Linked DNA regions of Homo sapiens. The main gene of each other region encodes a partner of the protein of the gene in region 4 in a complex. Each region holds a gene or a part of one and is shown on either strand. Other genes may lie near its edges. The genes, in order: INTS1, INTS2, SEM1 and INTS7. A codon is read from its position in the direction of its gene.

What was found.
Region 1: the proteins of INTS7 (region 4) and INTS1 are in contact, whole or in part, in a cryo-EM structure (PDB 8RC4), measured with the Homo sapiens proteins. Residues at the interface, in NP_056249.1 of Homo sapiens: His150, Asp151, Leu187, Ala188, Thr189, Pro190, Val191, Lys194, Thr223, Ser224, Tyr225, Pro226, Ser227, Thr228, Asn262, Asp263, Pro264, Arg265, Lys266, Pro303, Tyr304, Gln349, Glu350, Cys352, Tyr353, His354, Asn355, Arg357, Ala360, Gln384; in NP_001073922.2 of Homo sapiens: Leu1378 (codon at 6,300), Gln1381 (codon at 6,291), Gln1382 (codon at 6,288), Gly1385 (codon at 6,279), Gln1386 (codon at 6,276), Ala1389 (codon at 6,267), His1429 (codon at 6,147), Phe1430 (codon at 6,144), Leu1431 (codon at 6,141), Cys1433 (codon at 6,135), Pro1434 (codon at 6,132), Arg1437 (codon at 6,123), Gln1438 (codon at 6,120), Cys1440 (codon at 6,114), Gln1441 (codon at 6,111), Pro1476 (codon at 5,462), Ala1479 (codon at 5,453), Gln1480 (codon at 5,450), Met1483 (codon at 5,441), Leu1484 (codon at 5,438), Gln1487 (codon at 5,429), Arg1552 (codon at 4,586), Pro1554 (codon at 4,580), His1555 (codon at 4,577), Leu1556 (codon at 4,574), Glu1557 (codon at 4,571), Glu1558 (codon at 4,568), Pro1613 (codon at 4,324), Ser1614 (codon at 4,321), Gly1616 (codon at 4,315).
Region 2: the proteins of INTS7 (region 4) and INTS2 are in contact, whole or in part, in a cryo-EM structure (PDB 8RC4), measured with the Homo sapiens proteins. Residues at the interface, in NP_056249.1 of Homo sapiens: Leu38, Gly39, Glu40, Cys42, Glu43, Val46, Arg47, Asn77, Phe78, Leu81, Cys82, Leu84, Lys85, Gln88, Gln89, Asn114, Asp115, Pro116, Val117, Ala120, Ile121, Arg124, Val153, Glu156, Val159, Phe160, Ala163, Leu195, Lys196, Pro199; in NP_065799.2 of Homo sapiens: Gln27, Lys28, Val29, Cys48, Arg51, Met52, Cys55, Ala56, Ala58, Asp59, Gln60, Ser61, Trp64, Phe92, His93, Ala186, Glu187, Pro189, Ile194, Val218, Asp220, Ser221, Asn223, Glu224, Ser259, Leu262, Lys263, Arg265, His285, Gly294.
Region 3: the proteins of INTS7 (region 4) and SEM1 are in contact, whole or in part, in a cryo-EM structure (PDB 8YJB), measured with the Homo sapiens proteins. Residues at the interface, in NP_056249.1 of Homo sapiens: Lys410, Leu413, Asn414, Val417, Leu448, His451, Cys452, Ala454, Ala455, Met458, Glu488, Val491, Thr495, Leu517, Glu518, Ser521, Asn522, Gly523, Trp524, Val526, Tyr527, Arg528, Arg531, Gln532, Arg535, Ser548, Leu549, Thr551, Gln552, Val553; in NP_006295.1 of Homo sapiens: Ala36 (codon at 2,125), His37 (codon at 2,122), Val38 (codon at 2,119), Trp39 (codon at 2,116), Glu40 (codon at 2,113), Asp41 (codon at 2,110), Asn42 (codon at 2,107), Trp43 (codon at 2,104), Asp44 (codon at 2,101), Val48 (codon at 2,089), Glu49 (codon at 2,086), Asp50 (codon at 2,083), Phe52 (codon at 2,077), Ser53 (codon at 2,074), Gln55 (codon at 2,068), Leu56 (codon at 2,065), Arg57, Glu59, Leu60, Glu61, His63, Gly64, Tyr65, Lys66, Met67.

The regions. Positions count from the first base shown.
Region 1 is NC_000007.14:1,473,328-1,480,709, forward strand, and holds part of INTS1 (integrator complex subunit 1), read right to left. Parts: intron 7,115-7,382; coding exon 6,990-7,114; intron 6,358-6,989; coding exon 6,103-6,357; intron 5,559-6,102; coding exon 5,399-5,558; intron 5,180-5,398; coding exon 5,039-5,179; intron 4,610-5,038; coding exon 4,426-4,609; intron 4,347-4,425; coding exon 4,223-4,346; intron 3,592-4,222; coding exon 3,467-3,591; intron 3,331-3,466; coding exon 3,243-3,330; intron 3,129-3,242; coding exon 2,902-3,128; intron 2,745-2,901; coding exon 2,621-2,744; intron 1,512-2,620; coding exon 1,378-1,511; intron 1,034-1,377; coding exon 841-1,033; intron 367-840; coding exon 239-366; intron 1-238. UniProt on the Homo sapiens protein: Component of the integrator complex, a multiprotein complex that terminates RNA polymerase II (Pol II) transcription in the promoter-proximal region of genes.
Region 2 is NC_000017.11:61,917,601-61,924,982, reverse strand, and holds part of INTS2 (integrator complex subunit 2), read left to right. Parts: coding exon 1-22; intron 23-3,155; coding exon 3,156-3,258; intron 3,259-5,469; coding exon 5,470-5,583; intron 5,584-7,382. UniProt on the Homo sapiens protein: Component of the integrator complex, a multiprotein complex that terminates RNA polymerase II (Pol II) transcription in the promoter-proximal region of genes.
Region 3 is NC_000007.14:96,692,738-96,700,119, forward strand, and holds part of SEM1 (26S proteasome complex subunit SEM1), read right to left. Parts: intron 2,155-7,382; coding exon 2,061-2,154; intron 1-2,060. UniProt on the Homo sapiens protein: Component of the 26S proteasome, a multiprotein complex involved in the ATP-dependent degradation of ubiquitinated proteins.
Region 4 is NC_000001.11:212,032,487-212,040,320, forward strand, and holds the start of INTS7 (integrator complex subunit 7), read right to left. Parts: upstream 3,072-7,834; 5' UTR 2,952-3,071; coding exon 2,858-2,951; intron 1-2,857. Other genes in the region: DTL (denticleless protein homolog), read left to right, coding at 3,405-3,456. UniProt on the Homo sapiens protein: Component of the integrator complex, a multiprotein complex that terminates RNA polymerase II (Pol II) transcription in the promoter-proximal region of genes.

The DNA.
Region 1 (7,382 bases), on a different chromosome or scaffold from region 4:
GAAGCCACATGTGCGTGGAACGGGACAGAGAGCCAGAGAGCTGCAGGGGTGGGTTCAGACGGCTTCGGCACAGGGTGGGGCGGCCTCTGCGCCCTGGGATGAGCACCACGCTCAGCAGCCCTCCCCGGCCTCAGGAGCAGCATATCTGACACGACACGGCCTTCCCAGGAACACCCTCCAGACCCCGCTGGACCCTCGCCGGAGGCCCGAGGCTTCCCTGCAGCCCGTGGGCACTCACTGGAGCGGGTCGGCGTGCTTCTGCAGGAAGGAGATGGCTGCTGGGGCATTGTAGGTAATGTACTTATGGATGAACTGCACAAACTTGTTGATGAAGGCAGCCAGATGGCGGGAGGACTTCCTGTAATTCTGCAAAGCAAAAGCGGCACCCTCGAGCTGCTCTGCCCCGCAGGGCCAAAACAGAGCCTGTGCTCCCATCTGCTCCCAGAGCCTCAGGGCATGGACCCCACAGCCAACGAGCCCCCTCTGCCAACCACTGGGGCGTCACAGGCCCAAGGGTGGCCGGCATGGCCTGTCAGGGTGTGGACATGGCTGTCTGGGGCATGTGCCCAGATGGATGAGGGGCTCGAGGTAGCACAAGCGACACGCAGAGAACAGCACGGAGGGTCTGGGCTGGGCTTCTGAAGGACGTGGGCCCCCCAGGCACGTGAGGGGCAGCAGGCAGGGGCTTCCCAGGGTGGGAGCTGGTCCCCAGGGCAGGTGGCCTGGCCTGGGCCCTGGCTGCAGAGGTCCTCCCAGTCCCTCCGCGAGTGGGTGAGGCAGGCCTGGGCCAGAGCAGAGGGAGTGGAAGGGAGCGCGAGGGCGGGCGGCGGGAGCACACACCAGCAGCAGGCGGATGAAGGACAGAAGGCAGTCCCACAGCGCCCCCTGGTGCTCGCTGCGGAACACGTGCGGCTGCAGCAGCTCCAGCAGGCCCAGCACGTGCAGGAAGCAGCTCAGGTGGTTCTGCTGCCGGAACTCCTGGAAGTTGAGGTGGGTGCGGCCGTGCAGGAGCGCCGCGATCATGGGCAGGTGCCTGCGGGCGCGGTGAGGGCCCAGTCAGCCCCGGCCGGCGGGCTCACCTGGCGCACGTCCCCAGGAAGGCCCCACTGCCTGCCCCGGGAGCCAGACCCCGTGCTGCCCCCCAACCACCCTCCTGCCCTAAGGAGGTGGGGATGAGATCGCCCCTCTCTGAGGCCCACCCAGCTCCTCCCACCTGAGGCCCAGCTCAGTCCTGACTTCCCCCGGTCAAGCTCAGCCCATGGGAACATGCTTTTTTTTGTTGTTTTTGGAGTTTTGCTCTTGTTGCCCAGGCTGGAGAGCCGCAGACCCCCCTGGTTAAACCAGTGTCTGGCGAGGGCAGGGCTTCTGGGACAGCACCTGAGCAGCAGCAGCGGGTGCGCCACCGCCAGCTTCCGGCAGGCCATGCTGGCATCCGCCCCTCGGTTCTCCAACGCCCGGGAGTCGCTGGTGTCCGCAAGGAGCGTGATGAAGCGGTGGATGAGTCCGTCCAGCTGCAGGGAGGGGCGCTCTGAGGCCGGGGCCGCTGGCTCCCCTCACTTGCCCACCCACACTCAGCCTGGCCGCCAGCTGTGGCCGTGATCCACCGCGTGGCACGCCATGAGCAGAGGAACTGGCTCCTTACGGCTTCCATGAGCACCTCGGGAGGGCAGGCAGGCCACAGCCAGCCTCTGGGAAAACCCCATACAGAATAAAAGCAAAGCTCCACACCAAATGATACAATGAGCGGGAAACAAGCCAAAACTACACATCGGCCAAGCAGGCGCAGTGGCTCACGCCTGCCATCCCAGCACTCTGTGAGGCCGCGGCAGAAGATCACCAGAGCCCAGGAGTTCAAGACTAGCCTGGGCAATGAAAATAGCCCTCTCTATTTTCAAAAATACAAAAAGAGTAACTGGGTGTGGTGGCACGTGCCTGTGATCCCAGCTACTCGGGAGGCTGAGGTGGGAGGCTCACTTGAGCACAGGGGGTTGAGGCTGCAGTGAGCTATGATGGTACCGCTGCACTCCAGCCTTGGCAACAGACACCCTGCCTCAAAAACCCTCCACAAAACTGCACATCAAGTGTGATTTCAACAAATAAAATGACATATAAGTGAAAAAAACCACAAGCAGAAATGATTAGAGAAAGTCAGCTGCCCTCTGTGGTACCAGCAGAAGACAGGCTGCAGGTTCCGGCCTGCGGTGGGGAAGCGGGTACGGGAGGCCCAGCTCTCCCCACCAGGGTCACTGGAGAGGAGCAGACGCAGCCGTCCGCCAAGACCCGGGCACGAGTCCCCAGCAGCTGTCACTGCCCCAAACTGAACGTGACCCCACGTCCACCAGCAGGTGAACAGATAAACCAACGGCCGATCCACACAATGGCAGGCCACCCAGTGCCCACAACACCACGACTCTCCAGACTGTGCGAGCAGAGCACCCGCAAGCTCCCTCGGTATAAAACTCAACGCAGACAAACCCACAGGGCCACAGGGCGGCGCGGACTGGGAAGGGGCAAGAGGGGTAGCCGGCGATGGCCATGTACACTGTGGCCTCCGCCCTCCCTCCCTGCCCGGCCAGGGCACCTGGGACGGCGGCGGGGAGCGGCAGAGTTGCGCCCTCACCTTGCAGACGCTGCTGCTGGCAGCCCCTTCGCTGTGCAGTAGGACCTCAGGCACGGGCACCCGCAGCTCCGGCCGCTGTAGGTAGAGCTGCAGGAGAAGGTCTCGGCAGCGCCTGCCCAGCACGCTGGAAGAGGTGGAGCAGGGCTCACCAGGCGGACGGGGCCCCAGTGACAGGGGTGGGTGGACGGGACCAGGCGTGATGGGAACCCACCCAGGGCTGGGCCTCGACCCCCTCCATGGCTCACTCCCAGGCAGCATCTGGGGCCGGGGGGCCTGAGCACCTGTCTCCCCACTGCTGGATGCAGCCTGACAGGTGCTCCGTCACCTTCCTGACACTCTCATCGTCCCCACAGCAGCAGCTGAGCAGCAGGGGCAGCCGGGCCTGGATGAGGCTGCAGGCGGCTGTGTCCCCGTCCTGGCTCCGCGTCTCCGCCTCGGCCAGGATCAGCTCCACCAGGCTGATGAGCTCCGGGCCCTGGACCCGCAGCACCAGCTCCTCCCGCCGCTTCTGTAACGGGTGCCTGCATCAGCCCCGGAGCACCACCGCCTCTCCCGGATGGGCCACCCCCTCTCCCGGATGGGCCACCCCCTCTCCCGGATGGGCCACCCTCCCAAGACCTGCCTGCGGGGTGCGCTGGTCCCGCCCCTGCCAGATGCGAGGAACATGGATGCAGGCCCAGAGGAAGTCCAGAGAGGCAGAGGGGTCGAACCTGTGGGGAGGCAAAGGTTCCAGAGCACGAGGTGTCTCGTCTCAGCATGGGAGATACCAGTCAGAGCCGGCGCTGGGAGATTTCTGGTGAAGGCCAGTATGCGCGCAGCCCAGGTTGGGGACAGGGAGGCGCCCACCTCTGTTCCCGGCTCTTGCCCAGCAGGACTCGGATGCACTGGTGCAGTGTGGGCCAGCTGGACTGATGCGTGAAGAGGGTCAGGAGGTAGGGACGGAACGAGGGCACCTGGGCCTGACCTTTGCCCTGGGGAGGGAGGAAGAAGCCCGGATGGCCTCACCTGGGCCAATGGCAGGCTCTGCTGAAGTCAGCTGACAGCTTCCCCAATGAGCCACTCAGAGAGCCGAGGCTTGGGGTGCTGCCGGTAACACCGGCCCCGTCATGGTGCTGGAGGGCCGCTCCTGGTGGCTGCGCTGCATCTCCCCGCCCCTTCCCACGGGAGCCATGCCACACAGCGGAGGTGCCCGGGGCTCCATGCAGCCTCTCTGGTGAGGCCGTCCCTCCCTGGAGGATGTGGGGAGCCCAGCACCTGCCCTCCCTTCTCCTGGCCACAGCCCCATTCCCTTTGGGAAGATGGAGGCCCCTACATGATCTACAGGGTTTGGCAGGGCCGACCCCACCCCATCCACCCACCCCATCCCCACATCTGGCTGGTCACAGTGCTGGTCCACAGGTGACTGTGACCCTGGCCTGGGTTCTGCTAGGGCCATTGGGGGACCTACCCTTCCTCTGGGTTGCTACAGGGACACATGGCCTGAGAGCAGGGGGGGTGCTGGGGCCCCTGCAAGGCTCGCCCAGGCCAAGGCTGCTGCACTTCAGGTCAGGAAGAGCCTTTACCCTGGGGTGGGTCCCCGTGCTGAAGCTGGGTGCCACCCACCTTCCTCCGGGAGAAGAGCAGCCTGAGCTGCAGGTCGGGGCAGCTGCTGACCACCTCGGGGTCCAGCATTTCCAGCCAGTCCACTAGGAGGCCTGACGAGGGCCCCAGCCGCACGGCCTCCAGGCTGCAGGGAGAAGGTGGCTCAGGGAAGGGCTGGTGCCACCCGCCTGCCCACCCTGGCCGTGTGCAGCACCCCAGCTCACCTGCCACCGTCCGCACCCGGCTTCCCCCCAGCCAGGGGCTCCTCCTCCTGCAGCAGCAGGGAGCTCACCACCACAACGGGCTTACAGGCTGGAAACGGGGAGGCAGCATCCGCAGTGGCAGAGAAGAATGCAGTCAGCAGCTCCTCCAGGTGGGGGGACCTCACCTCGATCAGCCCCTGGAGGACTGCGCAAGGGACAAAGAGACATGTGGGTCACTCCCAGGTCGGGTGGGGGCCGCTGAGTGGGTGTGGGCTAGCCAGGGTGGGGTGTGGGGTGAGCATGTGTGGGACACAAGAGCAGAGTCCAGCCGGAGCCAGAGAGGAGAGTGCAGCCGGGGCCGGAGAGGAGAGTGCGGCCGGGGCTGGAGAGTGCGGCCGGGGCCGGGGCTCACTTTGCTGGGTGCAGCAGTGATCAGGGGCCCCCCAAGGAGGAAGCTCCAACTCATTCTCAAGAGGCCCCGCCCTGAGCCATCTGGGAGGGGACCTCTGTGGGCACTTTCCGGGGACAGTGCTGAGCAGACACTGTCCGTCCCCCACTGGGCAGCTAGAAGGAGCCTCAGGTTTGGGTCTTCCCAGGGCCGCCGTGGCCCAAGAGGATGGTGCCAGGAAGGTACCTTTGCTGATCAGGTCCGGCTCCACGCTGCACTGCTCCCCAGACCTCAGGGTGGCGATGACGGCACGGACGGTGGAGCTGACCACCTCCAGGTCCTGACGGAAGGCCAGGGCCTCGGCCAGGCGCAGGAGCCCCCCTCGCACTGTGGGAGGTCTGTGTGAGTGCCCTGTGGCTCCAGCCCTCACCCCATCGGTGTATCCCATCCAGGGAGGCCCCACGGTAGAAGGGCTCCCCTGGGCCCACGCGGGTACCCACCCCCCAAGCCACTGCCCAGGCCTCGGGGTGCCAGGCAGCTTGGCCACTCTGAGTGAGCCCCTGTCCAGTGCCCCCCAGCCGTCTGCCAGCCCGGCGCGGTCCTCACCATCACTGAGCCTGCGCCCGGCTGAGGCCTGGCTGGCAAGCATCCTGAGCTGTGCCCGCAGGGGCCCGCCCTCCACGCCAGGGCTGTCCAGCCACTGCAGCATCTGCAGGAGCACCTTCAGGAAGAGCGAGGAGAAGCCGGTGTCCTGTGGCACACAGCGCTGCGGGGACAAAGTGGCACGTGGCTACCCTGGCAGAGGACACACGGGGACCCGGCACCCGAGGCCCAGAGCAGGGCCCGTGAGGCTGCTGAGACCTGCCGCGACCGGCACTTGGAGCCTGGGCCAACCTCATCCCGCCTCCTGTCTGAAACGGTGCCTCCCCTGCACGGGCCCAGACGACCTCACAGAGACCCTTTCAAAACCCCCCAGCTGGTGAGGGCTCCCACGCGGTTCAAAGGAAAAAGTAAACACAGACACCAAGTAAAACACAGTCCTAGGTACCAGCAGATGGGGAAAGCAAGGCAGGAGCGCCGAGCCTGGGTGGTGCAAACAGGCGGACGCCGCACTGCCCCCACCTCCCGTCCCGGGGGAATGTTCACTGGAAAAAGGGGACCTGCCGCCACTCCCTGGGGCACTGTCCTTTCTCACTTGGAAACTGAGACCCAAGACCCACAGAGGAGCAGTCACAGGACACCCGGGCCGTCCTGCGGGAGGCAGAGCCCTCACTGCCCTCCTCCCCCGCAAGAGGCCCACGCCCAAGTACCTGGTACTGGCAGAGCTGGCGCAGCAGCGGGCAGGCCAGGAAGTGGCTACGGTGCATGGACATCACCAGGGCACCGCCGTGTGGGGAGCTGAGCAGGGTGGCGAGGGCCTGCAGGACACGCACCGTGATGCCCGGCACCTCGGGGCTGCCCTGGACGACGCGGGCCAGCTCCTGGCCCAGGGCCTGCTGCAGGGCGAGGGCCACGGGGCGGGGACTGGAGCTCTGCCACCGAGGGTCCGGGCTGAGCGGGAAAATCTGGAACGGGGAAGGCCAGTGTCAGGAGGAAGCGGAGGAGAAGGAGGAGGAGCGCAGCGGAGAGGCTAAGCGCCCGGTGCAGCTCCGTGCCAGAACCGCGTCCCATCGTGTCCCTGTTCATTCGTAGCCCCCACCTTGTGGCCTGAGGGGCCCAGGGCCCTTGAGACCTGTGATGTGAAGCAGTGAGGGACCCCAACACCCAGGAGCTGCCCCAGAGAACAAAGGTGTCCAGAGCCTGCCCAGGGACCACCAGGCTCTCCATCAGGAGGTGGTGAGGCCTGCAGGATCCCCGGCTCCAACAGCCAGACCTCAGGCGAGACCTGCAACCTCAGCTTCTGTACACATCAAACCGGGTGCCCCGCGCAGAGGGGTGTGCAAGGATGGCAGGGAGGATGCAGGGCGACCCCCTTCCCCAATGTTGGCCTAGCCTCCATCTGAGAGCATGGGGGTGTTACGTGAAAGCAGCGTGCCAGGGTCAGGCGGTCACGCGTGTAAAGGCCGCTGTGCGTGTGCAGCGTGCCTGGGTCAGGCGGTCACGCAAGTAAAGGCCGCTGTGCGTGCGAGGCGGCAGCGAAGGCTGCACGCAGGAAGAGGGGCTGCAGGTGGAGACCCACATGCAGCAGCAACGCTACCTGGAGGAACATGCCAGCCAGGTCGTCCTCAGGGCCCAGCACCCGGAGCTGGGTCCCCACCCGAATCCGGCCCTGGCCTATGGGCTGCTCTGGGCTGCTCTTTGGTTTGGGTGCCTCTGTGCTGTCTGCAGAGACAGGAGAACTGTCAGTGGCTGGACACTTTCTGACCTGCTTCCAGCGGTGGGAACTGTACAAGCCATGGCGAGTCCTGCCCGGGGACTGTCACCCAGGAGGAAGAGCTCAGACCTGGGCTCTGTGTTCCCCAAGGACCCCAGGTCTCGCTCAGGTCCACAGGGATCTCAAGACTCTGAACAGGAACGTGCATGCTGGCCAGAGGCAAATGCTGCCCAAAGACAGGCTGAGAGTTTCTGTGGGGGCCCCTCTCAGGTGGCA
Region 2 (7,382 bases), on a different chromosome or scaffold from region 4:
ACTGTTGGCAATTATGAACAAGGTGCATTTCTTTTAACCACAGCTCAAAGTATGCATGATTTGATGTCTATGTATAGGGAGGTAGACAGAAAAAGAGACAAGAAGTCAGGCAGGTTGAATTCTCCTCTACTCTTATTTTGTTCTTTTTTTTTGGAGACGGAGTTTCATTCTTATTGCCCAAGCTGGAATGCAGTGGTGTGATCTCAGCTCACTGTAATCTCTGTCTCCCAGATTCAAACGGTTCTCCTGCCTCAGCTTCATGAGTAGCTGGGATTACAGGTGCCCGCCACCACGCCCAGCTAATTTTTTGTATTTTTAGTAGAAATGGGGTTTCACCATGTTGACCAGGCTGGCCAGGCTGGTCTCGAACTCCTGAACTCAGGTGATCCACCCGCCTCAGCCTCCCAAAGTGTTGGGATTACAGGCATGGGTCACCGTGCCCGGCCTTCTCTACTTTTATTTCTATATATTTGTTTTCCTTTCAAAGCCTGAAAGGATATTATAAGTCTGCCTTAAAGTCCTTCTCTTAATTATCATTTTCTCTCATTTATACTTGTTCTGCATTTTCTATGAGAGGGATTTTTTTCCGTATGGAATCCATACACAGTGGCTTCTTGACATTTAGAAAGGGATTTATCTCAAGGCTTGTACAGATTATCAAATTTATTAGCAGATAATACCTTTATGGGATACAATTTCTCCCATAAAGTGTAATGAAGTAACATTTTCAATAACTGAATGTGAATAACTGAAAAATGTATGTGATTCATTTAGACACTGGATGAGCAGTAACAGCCTCATATATGACAGCAGAGGGGAGTATCAATGCTGAATTGAATGTAGGATGATTGGCTAGTCTCAATCACTAAATGACCAAAGTGCTTCTTTACACTAATGAAAGCTATTCAAGTTATCTTCTTTGTAAAATTATAGATTACTTAGGTCATAGACCTTTGGGTAATATAGTTAATTGAAACTCTGAATTTAAAATTTTTGAATGTCAAAGTTCTATCATATAAATAACTAAATTAGCTGGGCGTGGTGGTGCACGCCTGTAATCCCAGCACTTTGGGAGGCCGAGGTGGGCGGATCACCTGAGGTTGGGAGTTCAAGACCAGCCTGACCAACATGGAGAAACCCCGTTTCTACTAAAAAATACAAAATTAGCCAGGAGTGGTGGTGCATGCCTGTAAAAGAATTGCTTGAACCTGGGAGGTGGAGGTTGTGGTGAGCCGAGATTGTGCCATTGCACTCCAGCCTAGGCAACAAGAGTAAAACTGCCTCAAAAACAACAACCACCACCACCACAAAAACCCACTAAATTAGATCTTTATGTTTATTTACTGTTATAATTTTGGGGAGTCAGTTAATTTATAGTAAATAAAGTTTAGTTTTATAAATTGTGGACAAAAAGAGAAAGGACTAAATTCTGTTTTCATAGAAAATACTGGTAGAGAGGATTTTGGTGAGTTTTAGATAGTTTTTTTTTTTTTTTTTTTTTTTTTGGAGACAGAGTCTCACTCTGTCGCCCAGGCTGGAGTGCAGTGGCACAATCTCGGCTCACTGCAAGCTCCGCCTCCCGGGTTCACACCATTCTCCTGTCTCAGCCTCCCGAGTAGCTGGGACTACAGGTGCCCGCCACCATGCCTGGCTAATCTTTTGTATTTTTAGTAGAGACGGGGTTTCACCGTGTTAGCCAGGATGGTCTCGATCTCCTGATCTCGTGATCCGCCCTCCTTGGCCTCCCAAAGTGCTGGGATTACAGGCACGAGCCACTGCGCCCGGCCGAGTTTTAGACAGTTTTTAAGGTATGTTAAAAAATTTTTCTAAAATTTCCATCACCAATTATAATTTCCTTCTCTTTTTTACTATTTTGATACTTTTATTTATTTTTGTTTGTTTTTTTGAGACAGAGTTTCGCTCTTGTTGCCCAGGTTGGAGTGCAATGGTGTGATCTTGCTCACTGCAACCTTTGCCTCCTGGGTTAAAGCGATTCTCCTGCCTCAGCCTCCTGAGTAGCTAGAATTACAGGCACCCGCCACCATGCCTGCTAATTTTTGTATTTTTAGTAGAGACGGGGTTTCACCATGTTAGCCAGGCTGGTCTCGAACTCCTGACCTCAGGTGATCCTCCCACCTCGGCCTCCCAAAGTTCTGAGATTACAGGCATGAGCCACCATGCCCAGCCTATTTTGATACTTTTAAATTTCAGCCAAGAGTTTTCCTTCATCTTTTCCGTAATACCTCACTTGGTGACTCTAATAAATAAGTGACCTTTCTCCTCTGGGAGATTTCCAATTTTTTAGTTTGGCACTCTTCATTATATAGGAAATATGGTTATGAAACTATTGTGCAGAATTTCCAAAAAGCTTAGTAGATTTTGTTATCTAAACTTTAATTCTTTGTTTTTCCAACAGTTTATTCAGAATTGAACACGTATATATATATATATATATATATATATATATATATGTTTGTTTGTTTTCTTTTTTCTTTTTCTTTTTTTTTTTTTTTTTGAGACGGAGTCTCATTCTGTCTCCCAGTGTGGAGTGCAGTGGTGCTATCTCGGCTCACTGCAGCCTCCACCTCCCGGGTTCAAGCGATTCTCCTGCCTCAGCCTCCTGAGTAGCTAAGATTACAGATGGCCACCATGCTTGGCTAATTTTTATATTTTTAGTAGAGACAGGGTTTCACCATGTTGGCCAGGCTGGTCTCGAACTCCTGACCTCAGTTGATCCACCCATCTTGGCCTTCCAAAGTGCTGGGATTACAGGCGTCAGCCACTGCACCTGGCCATGAATTTATATTTGTTAAACTGCTTTAGGTTGACTGTTCTTGGCTTTTTTAAAGCAGTTTATGTAGGCTGCATTTGTAGTTCATTTCTTTGGCTTGCCTTATCCTTTAATTCCAGTTGTCTCCAAATATTTAGATAGAAATCAGTTCTTGAGATTGATACTGCTATATCTGAATAATAATTAACATGACTGCTGTGTGTGGTTAAATTGGTTGAAATTGATTGAATACTGCATATTCTGCTGTGGTATATTAGTGATACATTAAGAGACATAATCTGTGAGCTCAAGAAATAATTATAAAAATAGGGATTTAATTATCTGAAATTAATAGAGTTTATATCTTTTTTTTTTCTTTTTTAAGGTGTCTGAGTCCAACGGAGAATTTTTTTTCAAGTCTTCTGAACTTTTTGAGAGTCCAGTATATTTGGAGGAAGCTGCAGATGTACTTTGTATTTTACAAGCAGGTACTGTACTGAGTGCTAAGATGGATTTCATATATAGTTTCTTGTTAAATGATACTGTGTAACTTCTTAGCCTGGTATGCTGTGTTATTTTAGGGATCATATAACAAACATGTTATGTGATTTTAAGTCAAAAGTGACTAATAGTTGGACAATGATTAAGTAAATTATATTATTTTCATAGTGTGACATATTATGCAGACATTAACATGGTATCTTTGATTTAATGACTTTAATGCTCGTTAATGATTTTGGAAAATGTTTACAATATGTTAAGTGAAAAAAGCAAAGGGCAAAGTGTTAAGTAGACTATAATCCCAGTTTTGTTAAAAGTTCAAGAACAATACCCTTGATGAATTAAAATAAAATACTTATTTTTTTTTAGAGACAGAGTCTTGCTCTGTTGCTCAGGCTGGAGTACAGTGGCAGGATCATAGCCCACTGGCTTGAATTCCTGGACTCAAGGGATCCTCCCACTTCAGCCTTCTGAGTAGCTGGGACTACAGGCCTGTGAAAACATTTTTTATTAACTTTGAATTCTGGGATTAGGGCAGATTTTAATTTTCTTCTTCGTACCTTTTTGTATTTTCCAGATTGTATATAATAGGTGTGAATGATAGAAATAAAAGAGGACAGAAAAATGTAAAGAAGGCTGTCGCTCATGCCTGTAATCCCAGCACTTTGGGAGGCCGAGGCAGGAGGATCACTTGAGCTCAAGAGTTCAAGACCAGTCTGGGCAACATAGTGAGACCTTGTCTCTACCAAAATGAAAAAAATTAGCCTAGTGTGGTGGTGTATACCTGTAGTCCCAGCTGCATGGGAAGCTGAGGCAGGAGGATGGCTTGAGCCTGGGAGATTGAGGCTGTAGTGAGCCATGATTGTGCCATTGCACTCTGTCCAGAGTGAGACCTTGTCTTTTTTTTTTGAGATGGAGTCTCACTCTGTCACCCAGGCTGGAGTGCAGTGGTGTGATCTCGGCTCACTGCAACCTCCGCCTCCGGGGTTCAAGTGATTCTCCTTCCTTAGCCTCCTGAGTAGCTGGGATTACAGGCATGCGGCACCATGCCCAGCTAATTTTGTATTTTTAGTGGCGACGAGGTTTCACCATGTTGGCCAGGCTGGTCTCGAATTCTTAACCTTGTGATCTGCCTGCCTCAGCTTCCCAAAATGCTGGGATTATAGGCATAAGCCACTGTGCCTGGCTGCAGACCTTTTCTTAAAAAAAAAAAAAAAAAAAAAAAGTATAGGCCAGGCACGGTGGCTCACGCCTGTAATCCCAGCATTTTGGGAGGCCGAGGTGGGTGGATCACCTGAGGTCAGGAGTTGGAGACCAGCCAGGTCAACATGGTGAAACCCTGTCTCTACTAAAAATACAAAAATTAGCCTGGTGTGGTGGCAGGCTTCTGTAATCCCAGGTATTCGGGCGGCTGAGGCAGGAGAATCGCTTGAACTCTGGAGGCGGAGGTTGCGGTGAGCTGAGATTGCGCCATTGCATTCCAGCCTGGGGGACAAAAGCGAGACTTCGTCGCAAAAAAAAAAAAAAAAAAGCAAATAAGATTTTCGTGAAAATAACTCTTTAGACCAGTTCTATAAAATAAAATTTCCTGTACTGTTCTATGCTATGCTGTCCAGTGTTCTTTGTGGCTGTGGATTACTTGAAATGTGGCTAGTGTGATTGAGGAACTGAACTGTTTTTAATATAAGTATCCTTATGTTGCTAGTGGGTATCCTACTGGACAGCTTGGTTCTAGACTATGAAAAGAAAGTACTTTATTTTAGATGACATTTGTGAAATGTCAAAAGATATTTAATAATACAATGAAATGTCATTTTTGGTTGGGCATGGTGGCTCATGCCTGTAATTCTAGGAGTTTAGGAGGCTGAGGCAGGAGGATTGCTTGAGCCCAGGAGGTTGAGGCTGCAGTGAGCTATAATCACACCACTGCACTGTAGCCTGGGCAACAAAGCAAGACCCTGTCTTAAAGAAGAAAAAAAGAAATATCACTCTTTAACACTGGGTCCAGGCATGGTGGCTTATGCCTGTAATCTTAGCACTTTGGGAGGCTGAGGCTGGAGGATCACTTGAGGCCAAAGTTTGAGACCCACCTGGGCAACACAGTGAGATTCAGTCTCCACAGAAAATAAAAAAAATTAGCTGGGTGTGGTGGAGTGCACCTGTTAACAAAGACTAACACTGACTTTGTTTTCTTGTAGAGCTCCCTTCCTTGCTCCCTATAGTTGATGTAGCTGAAGCTTTGCTACATGTTAGAAATGGTGCCTGGTTCTTGTGTCTCTTGGTGGCCAATGTTCCTGATAGTTTTAATGAAGGTAAATATGATTCTAATATGGTATATTGAAAAGACTTGCTTGGACATGTACAGGACCTATCTTTTTGACCTAAGAAGAAACATTAATGGGATTTTATTTGAGATTTTATCTTTTGAAAGTTTGTTAGTATGTATAAAGAAATATTGAGTTCACAAATTGTATTGAGTTTAAAGATCAGGCTGGGCGCAGTGGCTCACACCTGTAATCCCAGCACTTTGGGAGGCCGAGGCGGGCAGATCACAAGGTCAGAAGTTTGAGACCAGCCTGGCCACTATGGTGAAACCCCATCTCTACTAAAAATACAAAAATTAGCTGGATGTGGTGGTGGGTGCCTGTAGTCCCAGCTACTGGGGAGGCTGAGGCAGAAGAATCGCTTGAACCTGGGAGGTGGAGGTTGCAGTGAGTCGAGATCGCACCACTGCACTCCGGCCTGGGCGACAGGGCGAGACTCCGTCTCAAAAAAAAAAAAAAAAAAACCCCAAGGAACTAGAAGATGTAATATCTATAATCAGGGATCAAAGAAGATACATGTATCAGTGAAATATCAAGAGAGCAATACGGGATATGTATAATGAGAAATGCTAGGAATCAGACCTTTGTTTTTTAGCCCTACTGCTGTCAGTTTACAGAGAAGTATAAAGTAGAAATTGAGAAAAATCGACTACATTTTTTCACCTCTATTTAAAACTTACAGTGATTGAAGGTTGTTGTTTGGGTATGAGTGATATAAAAATAAAAACATTTTGTTGAGCAAGGTAGTTTGTGAATTAGGAGCCTGGGAGGAAAAAGTACTGGAGTTATAATTCCTGATTTTGTCATTCACTTATTGTGTGAGCTCTATCAAAATACTTCTCATCTGGCTGGGCACGGTGGCTCATGCCTGTAATCCCAGCACTTGGGGAGGCCGAGGTGGGTGCATCATTTCAGGCCAGGAGTTTGAGACCAGCCTGGCCAACATAGTGAAACCCCGTCTCTACTAAAAATACAAAAATTAGCTGGGCTTGGTGGTGGATGCCTGTAATCTCAGCTACTCAGGAGGCTGAGACAGGAGAATTGCTTCAATCTGTGAGGTGGAGGTTGCAGCGAGCCGATATGTGCCACTGCACTCCAGCCTGGGCAACAGAGTGAGACTCTGTCTTAAACAAACAAACAAACCAAAATACTTCTCATCTGTAAAATGGAGATATTGATAGTGTAATAGTTCCCTGACTTTTTTAAGAGATTTATTGAATATCAGATGATATGTAAAAACTCTTTGTAAACTGTGTCCTTGCCGATTTTTTGTCAACTTGTTCTGTCAATTACTGAGAGAGGAGTTTTGATGTCTCCAGACATAATTGTGGATTTGCCTATTTCTTCTTTTTGTTCTGTCAGTTTTTGCTTCATGTATTTCAAAGCTCTTTTGTTGGGTTTATATGCATTTAGGATGATTATATCTTTATGATGAATTGAGCCTTTTTTTCATTATAAAATATACTTTTTTCCCCAAGTCAAATTTGATTTCTTTATTCTTAGTTTTCACATTTATAGTTATATCCCCCTTTCTAAACATTATTTACATATTATTCAATTTGTTGTCACCTTTGTTTTAATTTTTCTTTTTAAAAAAATTCGAAGTTTTATTTTAGATTCAGGGGGGTACATGTGCAGGTTTGTTACATGGGTATATTGTATGACACTGAGGTTTGGAGTTTGAATGATCCCGTCACCCAGGTTATGAGCATAGTACCCAATAGGTAGTTTCTCAGCCCTTGTCCCCTTTCTTCCTCCCCACTGGTAGTCCCAGTGTCCATTGTTCC
Region 3 (7,382 bases), on a different chromosome or scaffold from region 4:
ATTTTAGAGAAAAAGCAGGATTATTGTTCAATAGCTATCATTTTTATCTTGTCCATAAAACTATAAAAGGAAAAACAACATAATTAAGACAAAATTGAAAACTAAGACAGGTAAGATAACTGCATTAAGGCAGTTTAAAATCTCAAGGCTCTGGATAATTACATCTCAGGGTACTAGAAGAACCAAAAGATGTAGTCAAAAATCAGTCAGCAATATTTGAGACACGGAAATGAAAAACTGTAGAAGTATCAGTATAACAGTGAAAGGTAAATTATACTATTTCTAAAAATGAGAAAAAAAGTAGATAGGTAAAATTATTATCAGTCTCCAGCAAAATTCTAAGTCTTTATAGAGCCAATAAAAAAAAATGCAGTGTAGGAGCTGGTGCTACTGCATTACTATTAGAAATCAAAGTTTAAAAATTTATTATAAACTATTTCACTTTCTGTTTGAACAAGCTTACTAGACTAGTAAATTAGAAGACTGGAATACATATATCTTCTATATCTTTACTTGAGCAAAGTATATGACAGTCTATTTATTCTTGTAGCCAAGACAAATAAATACAGCCTGAATCAAAATAAAATTAGGAGGGAAAAAAGTCTCTTCAACAAATGGTGCTGGAAAGACTAGACATCTATATGCAGAAGAATGAGCTGAAGCCCTATTTCATAACATATACAAAAATTAACCCAAAGCAAAGACTGACATGTAAGAGCAAAAACTATAAAGCTCTTAGAAGAAAACAAAGATAAATCTTCATTACATTGAATTTGCCAATGAATTCTTAAATATGACACCAAAAGCACAAATAACAAAAGAAAAAATAGATTAAAATACGGCTATAATTTAAAACAAAAAAGAAAAATAAGTTTTGGCAAGGATGTGGAGAGACTGAAACCTTCACACCCTGCTAGTACGAACGCTAGTGAGAACATAAATTGTTCAACTGCTGTAGAAAACAGCTTGGCAGCTCCTCAAAAAGTTAAATATAGAATTAACGTATGACCCAACAATTCCACTTGTGTGTGTGTGTGTGTGTGTGTGTGTGTGTATATATATATATATAAAATTTCTTTTCAAAAGAATTGAAAACAGGTACTCAAATATATGTACACGTACGTTCATAGCAGCACTATCCACAATAGCTAAAAGGTGGAAACAGTCTGAATGTCCATCAACTGATGAATGTATAAAACGTGGCATATCCATATAGTATTATTATAAATTGGAATATACAATATGGAACATGTATATGAATATTATTCAGCCATAAAAAGGAATGAAGTACTGATGCATGGTACAACATGAATGAACCTTGAAAACATTATGCTAAGTGAAAAAAGGTACGCACGCAAGGTCACAATATTGTATGATTTCATTTATATGAAGCTTCCAAAACAGGCAAATACTTAGAGATAGAAAGCAGATCAGCAGCGGCCAGGGATTAGGGCAAGAAAGAACGTGGAATGACTGCTTAACAAGTACTGTGTTTCCTTTTGGGATGCTGAAAATACTGGAACTAAATAGAGATGATGGTTGCACAATATTGAGGATGTACTAGAAGCCACTGAACTGTACACTTTCAAATGCTTAATTTTATGTTACATGAATTTTACCTCAATAAATAAATGAAATCAGGTAGATTTATACATGAATATGACACAGTACATTCTCACAACCCCAATCTCCATTCCAGTTTGAGAATCACCAATCTATTAGGTCCCAGCACTCTATGATTCTAATTTCTGCTGAGTTATTTGATATTGGTAGAAAATTAACATTGACAGAATTAAATTCCTAAGGATAAGAAATAGCAAATATGCTTCTATTTTACTACCTTTGTAAAAAGACCAGAAAGAATAAAAGTTGTATGCAATTACACAAAGTGTTCATGTTTAGAATCACAGGAGATGAAGACAATATGTCTTACTTTACACAGTTCAAAAACCTATTTCAAAGATTAAGTAGCTTTTAAGAGGTTAATCATCTATGTAAATTACATATTCCATGCTTATAATTAATACTGAACTACAATAAAAATCTGGCTTAAAACTTACCGTAACTGATTAGAGAAGTCATCCTCTACATTGTCATCATCCCAATTATCCTCCCAGACATGTGCATCTTCATCTTCATCTAAGCCAGCCCAGTCTAAAAATAGAAACAGATGCTGTCTAAATATTTCTCATACATTATTTCCACAATTACAAAAACTTTGAAAAGCTTGCTACTGAACACTCACAATTCAAAAACAGCTAAAACCATATCTATGAAAAATGGTATCTTCCTTAAATCTGAGCTTATGCTGTCTAGTTCTCTCAATTCTTGAGTTTGCAGATAACCTAAAACAGAAGTTAATACAAAAAATTCTACTTGCCAAGAAACTTACAATTTCAGGAGGATATTTACTTTACTGATTTTTCTTTGAACTCATTTTTAGAAGGTCGACTTCACAATCTTTCAAAACACAACACCAACAACCCTAAAGCAAGTTGAATGGCAGGAAGATACCAGTGTGAAATTCAAAACTGCAAAACGTAAGGATAACTTATATACAAATATTTAAAAGTAGACCAAACTGTAAGCCACCACTAGTATCTGCCTAATACAACTGATACAAAATTTATATTTTTAAAGGAAGAATAAACATAAATATGCATAAAGAAGAATATTGTAGTTTTTAGTTTTCTAGATTTTCTTCCTCCCTTTGGTAGTGGTAGAGGGGAGGTTTAGATTGAGATTTCAGCTTTTGTTTAGAATGGTGAGAAAGTACGTACGTATTACCACTATTCTCTAACCTCAAATCTCAAGCTTTAAATATGCTATGTGGGTTGAGCCTGGAAATAGAAATTATCTATTTGATAGTTATTTTAAGGAGTCTTTATAAAGATGTCTAATGGAGTTTTATGTTACAAAAAAATAATTTAAATAAAGACTAGATACTATGTTCTTGAGTAAAGGGGGTGACATAACTCAAAATCACAACAGAACTGTTTCAAGGTTCTAAGACAACAAGCAGATTCTACTCAGCTTGAACCACTTCCAAATAACCAGCTTCCTAAACTGTTAAGTAGGTCGCTTCCATCTGCATTGGTCCCTAAAAAGGAAATAATCATGTGTCAAAAGATTCAAGCCAGAAATATAAAATAATATTTTACACTTTTCTGCTAACCTTGTAAGTCTTTGAAAAATACTGTAGAGCCTTATCTTTTAAAGCAACTATCTTTTAAGAAACAAAATTTTTCATCTAATTATGATTTGATTCAAAATGTTATTTCAATAGTTATTAAGTGATGTCTTCAAGTTGACTTTACTTCTTTTAACTTAGAGAGGGGAAAAATATTTAAGAATGGTACAATTTTTTTAGTTTATAAAGTTAAACTCTGATGATCATTTACAACAAAGATAAAGCATCTCTCCCTCGTCTAATAACCATCTCACCCTATTTTAATGGCTGGGAAAGGAAAGGAAAAAGTAGAGATAAAGTCCCAGGAAAAAGGAACTGGCTCATGAAGAGGGGGAAAAAGAATACTGTGAGCAACATTTTAGGTAGAACATATAAAAAAGATTCATAACAATACCTCTATAGTTCTTTCGTATTACTATACAGTACTTCATAGTTATGACACTACTGAGTAAACAAAGACGAAAGAGCTGGCCAAATTCTTCGTTAATTATCTGATAAATCTAGATAAACTTTGTAGCCTTAATACCATTATCTTAAGCAGTAAGAAGCACTAATGTCTACGTAATAGCATACCACCCTTCCAATTATCATAGATGAGGAATCTGAGAAATAACCTTTCTATTACAACTTATTAAGCAGTTAAAATTAATATGAGCACTGTTAAGAAAAATAGTGCTAACACTGACAAACCAGAATCTATTTTGGATGGATATTTTAAACAGTGTATTAACCTGGATTATGTACTTAACTATATTACATAAAAAGCTTATGTGATAGGGTATAATGCCCCAAAATAGTATGTCCAACACTTACAAATTCTCTATACTATACATACATGTTACAATATATGTAAGTTACAATACATACAAACTCTACTCAATGTATAACATGAAAAAGCTGTAACTATTGTAATCTCTGGGTTTAGCTGACATCTTCTTGGATCTCTGAATTGTGTTTTAATTTTCAACTCTAACACTACACTGACAACCAAGCAATTTTAATCACTCAGTTTTAAAGGGTTAACTCCAGAAATAGTTTTGAAAAGGACAAAATATAACCAAACAATGATACCCATGATATCTGATATACCTCATGTCTAATGCCATCCTTCAATATGTAGATGGCCTTATAAAGCATACACTTTACCTTAAACACTAAATGCATTGCCAGAATTGTGATTAATCATGTAAATAACCACAGCTGTATTTGCTTCAATGTGTATGCCTCCAGATGTGTACTGGTTTAAAAAAAAAAAAAAACCCTACATTTTAAAAAGTCAGAATTGGAAATAACCAGTAACAGATGCCTAATACATAAGTTTCTAGCAATTCTTATTTTAGACGTTGTCCCAAATTGGGCTTTCTTCACTTTGGCTAGTTGAGAATTACATCTGTGACTAGCTTTAAATTTAAAAAATCTGAGCTATCCAAGATCTAAGACATACTTCACCTAAGTATCACCTTGACATTTAAGTACAAAAAGAATCTTCTTTCAACTTAGAAAATTCTTTTAATACTTACTTTCCCCTACTCTGCAACATACATTTCCAAATTTCTGAAAGGCATGAAATATAGCATTTTTGAGAAAAGTAAAAAGGAAATCCCACTCATACTAAATAGGGTTGCAAATGTTCTATTCTACACCAATTTTCAAGAGTATCGAATTCTTATTCCATAAAAATAAAGGTATTCTGAACATAAACAACCTAATCTCCAACCAAGTTTCTTCAAATACAAAACATGCAAGTATATACAGAACATTACATGAAAAGAAAAATACTAAATTGAACATTCACCATCTTAGGTGTGTGTAAAAGAGAAGAGCAATACTTACAAACAGCATCACTATACTCATGAGTATGATAATGAAGCCACACCATATCCAGTGATTCTGAGATAAATTTACAAGTGTTCCTGCTGAGGGTGTATGAAACAAATTATTTTTTTTGAAAATTTCACTTCTGTAGGTTATCATAATGCAAACACCCGTATACCCTGCAGATCTAATGTCTAGTCAGTGACTAAGAAATCAATACGTAGCACGGCACCACTTTGCTACTATATTTTCTCTAACAAGGACCAAAACTGTTAGTGGAGAACTTCAAACAAAAAGCAAGTCATAAACAATGTTTTTATTGGCAGGCTGTTGGTGAGCTTTCAGTTGTGGCAGAGTCTGAAACAAAGGATCAAAATAACTTCATAATCATTCATAACTATTCTTACATTTTTTAAAAAGGAAATCCAAACCCAATTATTTTCATCAACAATTAAAAAAAATATAAGTCTGGCAGAATGGTTCCACTTTGTTGGTTCTCTTTGTTGATTTGGGATTTTTTTTACTTTAAGTTCTGGGATAGATGTGCAGAATGTACAGGTCCGTTACATAGGAATACATGTGCCACAGTGGTTTGCTGCACCCATCAACCCATCACCTAGGTTTTAAGTCCCACACGAATTAAGTATTTCTCCTAATGCCATCCCTCCCCTTGCTTCCCACCCCGACAGGCCCAGGTGTGTGATGTTCCCCTTCCTGTGTCTACTATGTGTTCTCATTGTTCAACTTCCACTTATGAGTGAGAACATGCGGTGTTAGGTTTTCTGTTCTTGTGTTAGTTTGTTGACAATGATGGTTTCCAGCTTCATCCATGTCCCTAAAAAGGACAAGAACCCATCCTTTTTTATGGCTGTATAGTATTGCACAGCGTATACGTGCCACCTTTTCTTTAACCAGTCCGTCACTGATGGCCATTGGGATCGGTTCCAAGTCTTTGCTATTGTGAATAGTGCTTCAATAAACATTCATGTGCATGCGTCTTTATAGTAGAATGATTTATAATCCTTTGGGTATAACCCAGTAATGGGATTGCTGGGTCAAATGGTTATTTCTAGTTCTAGATCCTTGCGGAATCACCACATTGTCTTCCACAATGGTTGAACTAATTTACACTCCCACCAACAGTGTAAAAGCGTTCCTACTTCTCCACATCCTCTCCAGCATAAATTTTTAAAAATGTATTTGTTTTTTCTTTCGCTTCCTGAACCTGGTAGATTTGTGGCTTTAATTTTAATTCCATAAAATTTACAAAAACCATTACTCTCATCTTTTCCAAGCCCTTATGCCCTAGATTCATCTCATCTTGGTACCCTCATTCTGATCTACCCTTCAAATTACTGAGTCAAGGGTATCCAATCTCAACTTCACCATGCATATTCTTAAGACACGCATGGGCAAAATCACAACCCCAGATTTCTTCTTATTCTCAACACCCCATATCAAACTAGTTGCTAATGCTTCATCACTTCTACCTCCCTTACTGTTGTGGCATCATTCTCTTCACTTCATTTCTAATAATAATTTATTTCGCCCTTAGTCCTCACCTGAGTTATTTCGACAATCTGCTAATTAACCTCCCTGACTCTAGTCTTTCTATCTTTTCAAATTAATTCTGCTGGGTTAATGTTTCAGCATATTGCCTAAAGGAAACTTACACATATCACTGTCATAAGCAAAACAAACAAAACATTTTAAAAACCACTTCTCATCTAGTTAATTAAGGATTAAGTCCAAACTGGTCAGAGGCTTAAAGCTTTCCATGCTGAGGCCACAAACCACCTGCATTTGCAACTACTATTTCATAAGCAAATACAATATACATACACATTTATTTTTCACTTCAAAGCACCTACACCTTTTCCCTTCTTTTGAAAACCCCTTTCCTACGTTTCTTTTGAAAGCCCTGTTCAAAGGTTGCTACCTCGCACTGTACATAACTGGAAGTAATCTGTTTCTTTTGAACTGCTGTTGCACTTTACTATCAGTTGAAGGAAACCAAATTACATCTTACTCAGAAGCCCAACAGGTAAGAGAAACAAAGGCAATGTTGCTATGGTTTAATTGGTGGTAGGGAGAAAAGGGCTTTGAGTCCCACCCCAGGATAAACACTTCCAAAATACTAAAGCACTCTAGCTTGGTGTTAAAACCACTGATTCTTCTCTCCCTTAACTACTACTTACTAAGTTCAAAGACAAATATCTATAGAAGTCAAATTTGCTTCAAGACAGCCTCTAATTAACTGTGACCTTGGGTAAATTAAATTTTTCTGATCCCTAGGTATAAAACTTATACCTCAAAGAGCTATGAAGACTCAATGACACTGTGTATGTAAAGCACTTAGTACTGATAAATGGCAGCT
Region 4 (7,834 bases):
TTTTTTTTTCGAGACAGTCTTGCTCTGTTGCCCAGACTGGAGTGCAGTGGTGTGATCTCGGCTCACTGGAAGCCCCGCCTCCCAGGTTCACGCCATTCTCCTGCCTCAGCCTCCCAAGTAGCTGGAACTACAGGTGCCCACCACCACGCCTGGCTAATTTTTTGTATTTTGTTTAGTAGAGACAGGGTTTCACCATGTTAGCCAGGATGGTCTCGATCTCCTGACTTCGTGATCCGCCCGCCTCAGCTTCCCAAAGTGCGGGGATTACAGGCGTGAACCACCACGCCCGACTGACTCTGGTTATCTTTCTATACTCATTGCCTATTACTTTGCTCCAGATAACTGCATGCAAAGGAGGCTTCTACCTCAGGGCCTTTGTACTTGCTGTTCTTCCACTTGATTGAGGAGGTCTTTCTTGCCTATACTTCATAAAATAAGAAATCAACTCCAGCCCCAGATCAGTTTTCTCCAGTCCCTTTCATTGCTTCATTTTCCTTTATAATATGTATCACTAACTGTCACGTTTGCTATATTTGCGGAGTGTCTGCATCTGCTGTCTAGAATGTAAGCTCTATAGGGGCAGGAGTTTTGTCTCATTAACTGCCATGTTCCTAGTACAAAGCCCGATCAAATAAGTCATGTGTCTGAGTGTGTATGCTGAGGTGGGGGAGATATTTCAGAAACAGTATTCCTTGGAGTTTGGGAACGAAAAAAAGAGTTGGAACTTGTAGCCTTCTGACCTTTAGCTCACAAAACAGAAATACTTTAACAGGTACAAGATGAAATGACTCAATATTTAAAATACTCAACTATATTCTACACGAAACTGGCTATTTCTATAACTTAATTTCCTAACAGCTTTAAAAGTTACTACAGATGAGATGAAAAAGAACAAGTCATCTTTCTGAGCCTGAGATTCACCTGTAAAACACTCACGCCAGGCATTGCTGGGAGGAGTGCAAATGATCACTTACTCTGTGTCTAAGATTGACACCTGATTTCTTTCCTATAGATATAAAATATTTTCATTTCAACTCTTCTTTAAAAAGGAAAAATTGTGGTTTTTTTCTTACAACTGCAAAATTTGAGGAATTAAACCATTCTAGACTCCTCTTCAGTGCCCCATCTTTATCCCTGTTCCACAACCACTATCCTATTGTCAGCATGAGACAAGCTCAGCTGCACCAGAATGGTAGAAAATGTCCTTAGAACTCGTAGGGATATTAGATATTATCCTGACCTGTAACTTTCACTGAGGAATAAGAAAGAAATGTATCAGAATGAGGAGGAAAGTGTTTGAAAAACACATTTAAGGCCGGGCGCGGTGGCTCATGCCTGTAAATCCCAGCACTTTGGAAGGCCGAGGCGGACGGATCACCTGAGGTCAGGAGTTGGAGACCAGCCTGGCCAACATGGTGAAACCCCGTCTATACTAAAAATACAAAAATTAGCCGGGCGTGGTGGCGGGCGCCTGTAATTCCAGCTACTCGGGAGGCTGAGGCAGGAGAACCGTTTGAACTCGGGAGGCGGAGGTTGCAGTGAGCCGAGATGGCGCCACTGCACTCTAGCCTGGGCAACAGAGCAACACTCTGTCTCCAAAAAAAAAGAGAAAAACACATTTAGTATTATACTTTTTTTTTTCAGAGGAGAAAACCCCTAAAGATTTGGTAAGAGAAGGAAAAGTTCAACATAATTTTCTTGGTTGATGGGGGTGCACTAAAGATACTGAGACTCAACCAAAGGAATATCCCATTAGGGGGCTGTGAAATTTTTGTGTTTATCAAAATAAGGTAAAAGCTTTTTTAAGAGCCTGAGAAACTCTTATTTAGACTAACCCACTAAAAATATTCACAGTTTAAAAAATAAACAGAAAAAGAGTCCCAAAAAAGTTAATAGACATGTCCAACTCAGAAAACTGGGAAGTGGCTCAAACCCTTCTGAGTTCTAGTCCAGTTCTCCAACATTATATATTGGCTACGATTAATCAAGATTTAATTGTATACCAGCTGCCGAAATGTTTCCCGTACAATAAAAATCCTCAATATGAAATAAAGGTTTCATATTACTAGTCGAGTTCTTTACTAACAAATTTCCGACCTTGCCTCCCATATCCACATCTAAGAAGGGAGGTATATCTCTTCAGCATTTACTAAATGCTTCTTTTGCATACCATTAAGTCACTTAATACAATTCTGCCGGCTCAATGGTACTGTACCCACTTTGCAGACGACAAGCCGAGGCTAGATGAAGTTAATCATAAAATCAGCGGCATTGAAACTTAACTCAGTGTAACCCCAAAGCTCCCTCTACACCAAGCTGCTCCCTGTACGGCAACAGAACTCCTGGAACTTGTCCGCAGAGAATGAGCAGGGCCCTTGCTTTTTTATGGTCTTGGCCAGGTTTAGCCTGCCTTGTAACCCGCAGGTAACAGAGCTATGGAAATCAAATGAATCGCTGTCAAGTCGGTGCAAGATTACTATTCAGCACATTTCATGAAGACCTGGTCTCAACTGAACAGACTGAAAACCAATTTCACAATTTCTTTGCAGTGTCTCTTAGAAACTAGCCACTGTCACTGCTTAGAAAATCGGGGGACTGCTCCCTCAAGTGGTCAAAACGGGCCTCTCACTAGAGCTCGCTACTTGTTTAGCCGGTATAAGGCCAGTCACACAATCCTGCAAATTTCCCGCAACCTCCCGAAGGGGTCAAAGCCCACGCCCCAGCAAAAGCACAGGCGCTCCCCGCCCAGCGAAGACATGCGCATGCGCCTATCCGTCTTCTCCCAAAGCAACCACCACCTGGTGGCGCCACTTCCCCCCACGCCTGTTTCACCCATTCAGCCCTCTCTTTCGAATACCTTTGTCCAATTCCATAAGGGCAGAGTTGGCATCCAGTTCCTGTTCGCCATAGCCGGCATCTGCCAGGAAAGACTTAGTTGAGTTTGACGCCATGACCCGAATAGTTACTCGACTAGCCTAGTCAGAAAGCTTGCAAACTCTACCCCAGGACCGCCATCTTCCCCCGCCGCCTTCTTGCTGGTTTTTCTTCCGCGCGCTGTCAAGCCCTGTTACGCATGCGCCCTGGTCACCCCGCGGTTTGTCCGCGCCTCTGCTACCCCCTGCGCAGGCGCTCAAGGAGCTCTTGGACTCCAGGTTCCCGCGGCTGGGAGAAAAGGAGGCGGGGATCCGAAGGGGGAAATGACTCTGAGGCGCCCGGACGTCGCTCGGAAGCCAATCAGAGAGCGTGACGTCAGTTTGGCGCGGAGTTTGGCGGCCGGGGCTTACAGTGGCGGGAGTTGGAGGCGATAACGATTTGTGTTGTGAGAGGCGCAAGCTGCGATTTCTGCTGAACTTGGAGGCATTTCTACGACTTTTCTCTCAGCTGAGGCTTTTCCTCCGACCCTGATGCTCTTCAATTCGGTGCTCCGCCAGCCCCAGCTTGGCGTCCTGAGAAATGGTGAGTAACGGTCCCAACCGCTGCTCGGAGCTGGCGGAATTCATTTCCCCCGAAACACACGCCACCTCCGACCAGGGCCGACTCCAATTCTGAACTCAGCTTCTGAGTTCTCCCATGGCAAGGGTAAATTAGTGTTAGCAGGGACTACTAAAGAAAGCTGTACTTTCATCCCCTCGGGACACTTGTAATCGTAATCGGGCTTTTAAAATCGTAACGTAGGCAGGGACGTCGAAATAACTGCCTTCCAAGGCCCCTTACAGCTTACATCTCCATTGCGCGTTAACGGGAAAATGCATGCATTTGTGTGTATATGTTTCCTTCAACGGTTATTTGAGATGCTCAAAACTCCTAATCATTGATTAATTCATTCGTTTGTTGTAGAATCTTAGTGAGCCCAGCTATGTGCTATAGGTATATACCAGTGAATATGACCCGCTGTTAAGGAACTCAGTCAAGCAGAGAAGACAGGATATCTGCTTCTAACAGGAACAAAATCTTATTTTCCCCGTTTACTACACGGTCATAAAAATTTAAATTATAGAGTGAAAGATGCCTGTAACCACATCCGCCAGAGATGACCCCTGTTAATAGATTGAAGTATATTATTCCAGATGTTTTCGACGCTAGAGGTAATACCTATTATTTTCAGAAATCGGATCAAAACGTCCAGTTTTTTCACTTTAATGGTATAAGTTGAACGTATTCCCATGTTAATACGTAGAAATCTAACTTATTTTCTTACGCTAAAACATTGGCAATAAGAGATTTGAGGTTAGATTTGGATGTCATCAACTTAAACTTTTTGGTAAGTTTCAGATAAGGGAGCTAACTACCCAGATTAACCTTGGACAGAAATAAAATCTCACTCATGTGAAGGTCGACTATAGCCAGAGGTTCTTTTTCCCCTTGAAACTATGTGGAAAACGAACCTGAGAAGGGAATTTTTATATTCAGCGATGAGTCTAGGAAAATAATATTGAGAAAGAGACTGAGAAGTAGTCCCTCAACTTCCTGCTAGCAGTCTGAAACTTTATACCATCCTTATTTATTTCCCTCTTAGATAATCTTTGTAATTATACTTAAATGCTCCTCTTTCTGTCTCTCCTGGGACCTTGTTTGAGTAACTTCTTTGTCCTCTGTTTAAGAGTGACAGTACGCACAGTGGCTAAGAACTCTGTCTTTGAAGTTAAACTGCCTGGGTTTTATTATACTTCCACACCTTACTATATGTGTGTTCTGGGGGAGCTGTTCAGCCTCTATTTTGTGACAGATTTTCTCCTAATTCTCCATGTGTTTACCTTTCCCTTCCCTCTTTCCTATTCTCAAGTACTCATTCGTTGTTACATAATAGTCACTGAAATTCATTCGTTATTATATGAAATCTATAGAATCATCTCCTTTCCTCTTCAGTGTTGGTGTTCCATCCTTGACCCCTTTTCTTCTTCTACCTACTCCTTTGGATGATCACAGCCACAACCAGGGCTTCTTCCACTTCTACATACATACAACCTTCTGTTACTTATATAGTAAGTCCTCACTTAATGTCTAGATAGGCTCTTGGAAACTGTGACTTTAGGGAAAACAGTGTATAACTAAACTAACTCTACCATAGGCTACTTGATATAAATAAGAATTGTTTCAGTGGCATATTTTGGTCACACAAACACCACCGAACTTCTAAAGAAAGACTCAAAGTACTTTTAATATTAAATGTTGAAATAATTGTGTGCTATACATATATTTGAGAAAGATTAATAAAAACAGGTGAGATAATTATCCAAGTTTTGGTGTATCAGCGAGTGACCTCGGTCATAGTGGTGGTGGGCTAAATCAAGGAATAAATGTTTGCAAAGTGAAAATTGGAAGGAGCACCTCCTACCACCACCCAGGTCAAAAACAATCACAAATATGGCAGCTCACTGAGCCCTTTCATACCAAATCGTTTATTGTCATTCATTTGTATGATTATTGTAAAGTTTACCCATTTTTATTTTACAATGATTTGTATTCATTCATTTTCTGACACACTTATTCCAGCTCAGGGCTGTGGGTGCCCGGAGCCTATCCTGGCAGCTCATGGTACAAGGTGGAAACCAGCTCTAGACCAGACACTATTTCATCACAGGAAGCACTCACACACACTCATTGTCTACTGGGACCATGTAGACACACCAGTGAACCTAACATACACATCTTTGGCATGTGGGAGGAAACCAGAGTACCTGGAGAAAACCCCTATGAACATGGGAAGAGCATGTACAAACTCCACACGGCCAATGGCCTCAAACAGGAATTGATTTTTTCCTCATGAACAGTATAACGAAATGACATTGTACAAAATTATGTTATTGGAAGACTTCCTGTACCTGAGATTCATTTCTATAAAAGCTGTGTGGGTTGATTAGCACCTAGACGGTCAATCCCACAAGCATCTCAAACTCAAATACCCAAAACTGAACTCAGCTTTTCCCCCAAACCTGCAATATTACCAATTTTAGAGAGTGGCCTCATTATTTAAACCTGCCAGAAACCTGAGTAAATTAAAGACTTCTTCATCTTCCTCACAGTTACACATTCAAAACATTTCGTTAAAATCTCTTGAATCCATCCTCTCTTCTTTATCTGTTATGATTATGCATCTTTACTGTATGCTGGATGTGTTCTATTTTTACTATTCCATTTCCCTAGGTTGGGCCCTAATGCCTTCTTGTCTGGATTGTAAGAAGTCTCCCAGATGGCCTCCTAGTTTGTCTGTCTTCGGTTTATTCTCCACATTGCTGCTAATGATCCTTCTAAAATGGAAATCTGATTACTCTTCTGTGTATTTTTAAATTGATATCTAAAAGTTTTTATTATAAACTTAAACAAATGCAAAGAATATAATTTCTGACCATATTGGGAATATTGACATTTTAAAAATAAAAATGCTATATCACTCCTTTAAGTGTATCTAATATAATTTAAATACTATAGTGATTTGATAATCACATCATCCATTTTTTAGAAAAATACAAACTCCTCTTTATCTGCTGGACATTCCATATAGCTGCTTTTTCCTCTTGAATTTATTTCCATTTCATTTCTCCTACAGAATTTCTCCTAATGTAATTTAATTTTATGCTTGAAAAGCTCTTTTACTGATCACTCTGTCATACCCTTCTGTGTCAAAAAATGTGTTTAAATTGCTGTTTTCTGTCATAAGCCTCCAAGTATTAAAACTTCTTTATGGATTGAATTTTCAATTCAATTATTAGTACTATATGATTGATTAAAACAATATAGATTACCAATTTTGATAATTATTAACCAAAAGTAAAATTTTATTGGAAGTCCATCTTTTTAAAGAGATGAATTTGGGTGTTTATGGTCCCTTTATTGAAGGAATTATTTAATTATCTCTTAGTTAAGGTTCCACCAGTTTATTTGTTTTTATTTAAAAATATTTGATACCCAAAAGTTTTTATTCTTTGGATCAGTGCAAGGTTTAAGATTGGGGCACGGGAATGCCTTTCTTTTATAAAGTGGAAGAAAGGAAGTGATGAAGGGAAAGGGAAAAAGTGGTACCTCAACCTTCTCAGAGACATCAGGTTTTTCAGACAGGTGAGTTTTAGAAATGCGTATATAGTCATCCAATTGCTTATAAATGGAGATAACATTTTGAGAAATGCATCATTAGGTGATTTTATCATTGTGCAAACATCACAGAGTATAAACACAAAGCTAGATAGTGTAACTACTACACACCTAAGCTATATATTTTTCCTAGGCTATAAACCTGTGTAGCATATTACTGTATTGAATACCGTAGGCAACTGTAACACAATGGTAAGTATTTGTGTATTTAAACATAGAAAAGGTTCAGTAAAAATAGGATATAAAAGATAAAAAATGGTAACACCTGTGGAGGGTGCTTACTATGAATGGGAGCTTGCAGGACTGGGGGTTGCTGTGAGTGAATCAGTGAGTGAGTAGTCAGTCAGCACGAAGACCTGGGACATTATACTACTGTAGACTTTATAAACACTCTATACTTAGGCTGCATTAAATTGATTAAAAAATACTTTCTTCAATAATAAATTAACCTTAGCTTACTGTAACTTTTAAACTTACAAACATCTTAAATTTTTTAACTTTTTGACCCTTGTGGTAACAGGTAGCATAAAGCACAGACACATTGTATAATTGTACAAAATATTTTATTTCTTCATATTCTTATTCTATAAGTTTTTTTATTTTAAATGTTTTTCTTTTCTTAACTTTTCAAACCTTTTGTTAAAAACTAAGACACAATAGGAATTTTTAAGCTCCATTATAATGTTGTAAGACTACCATTGTGTATGCGGTCTGTCTTTGGCCAAAATGCCATTACATGGCATAT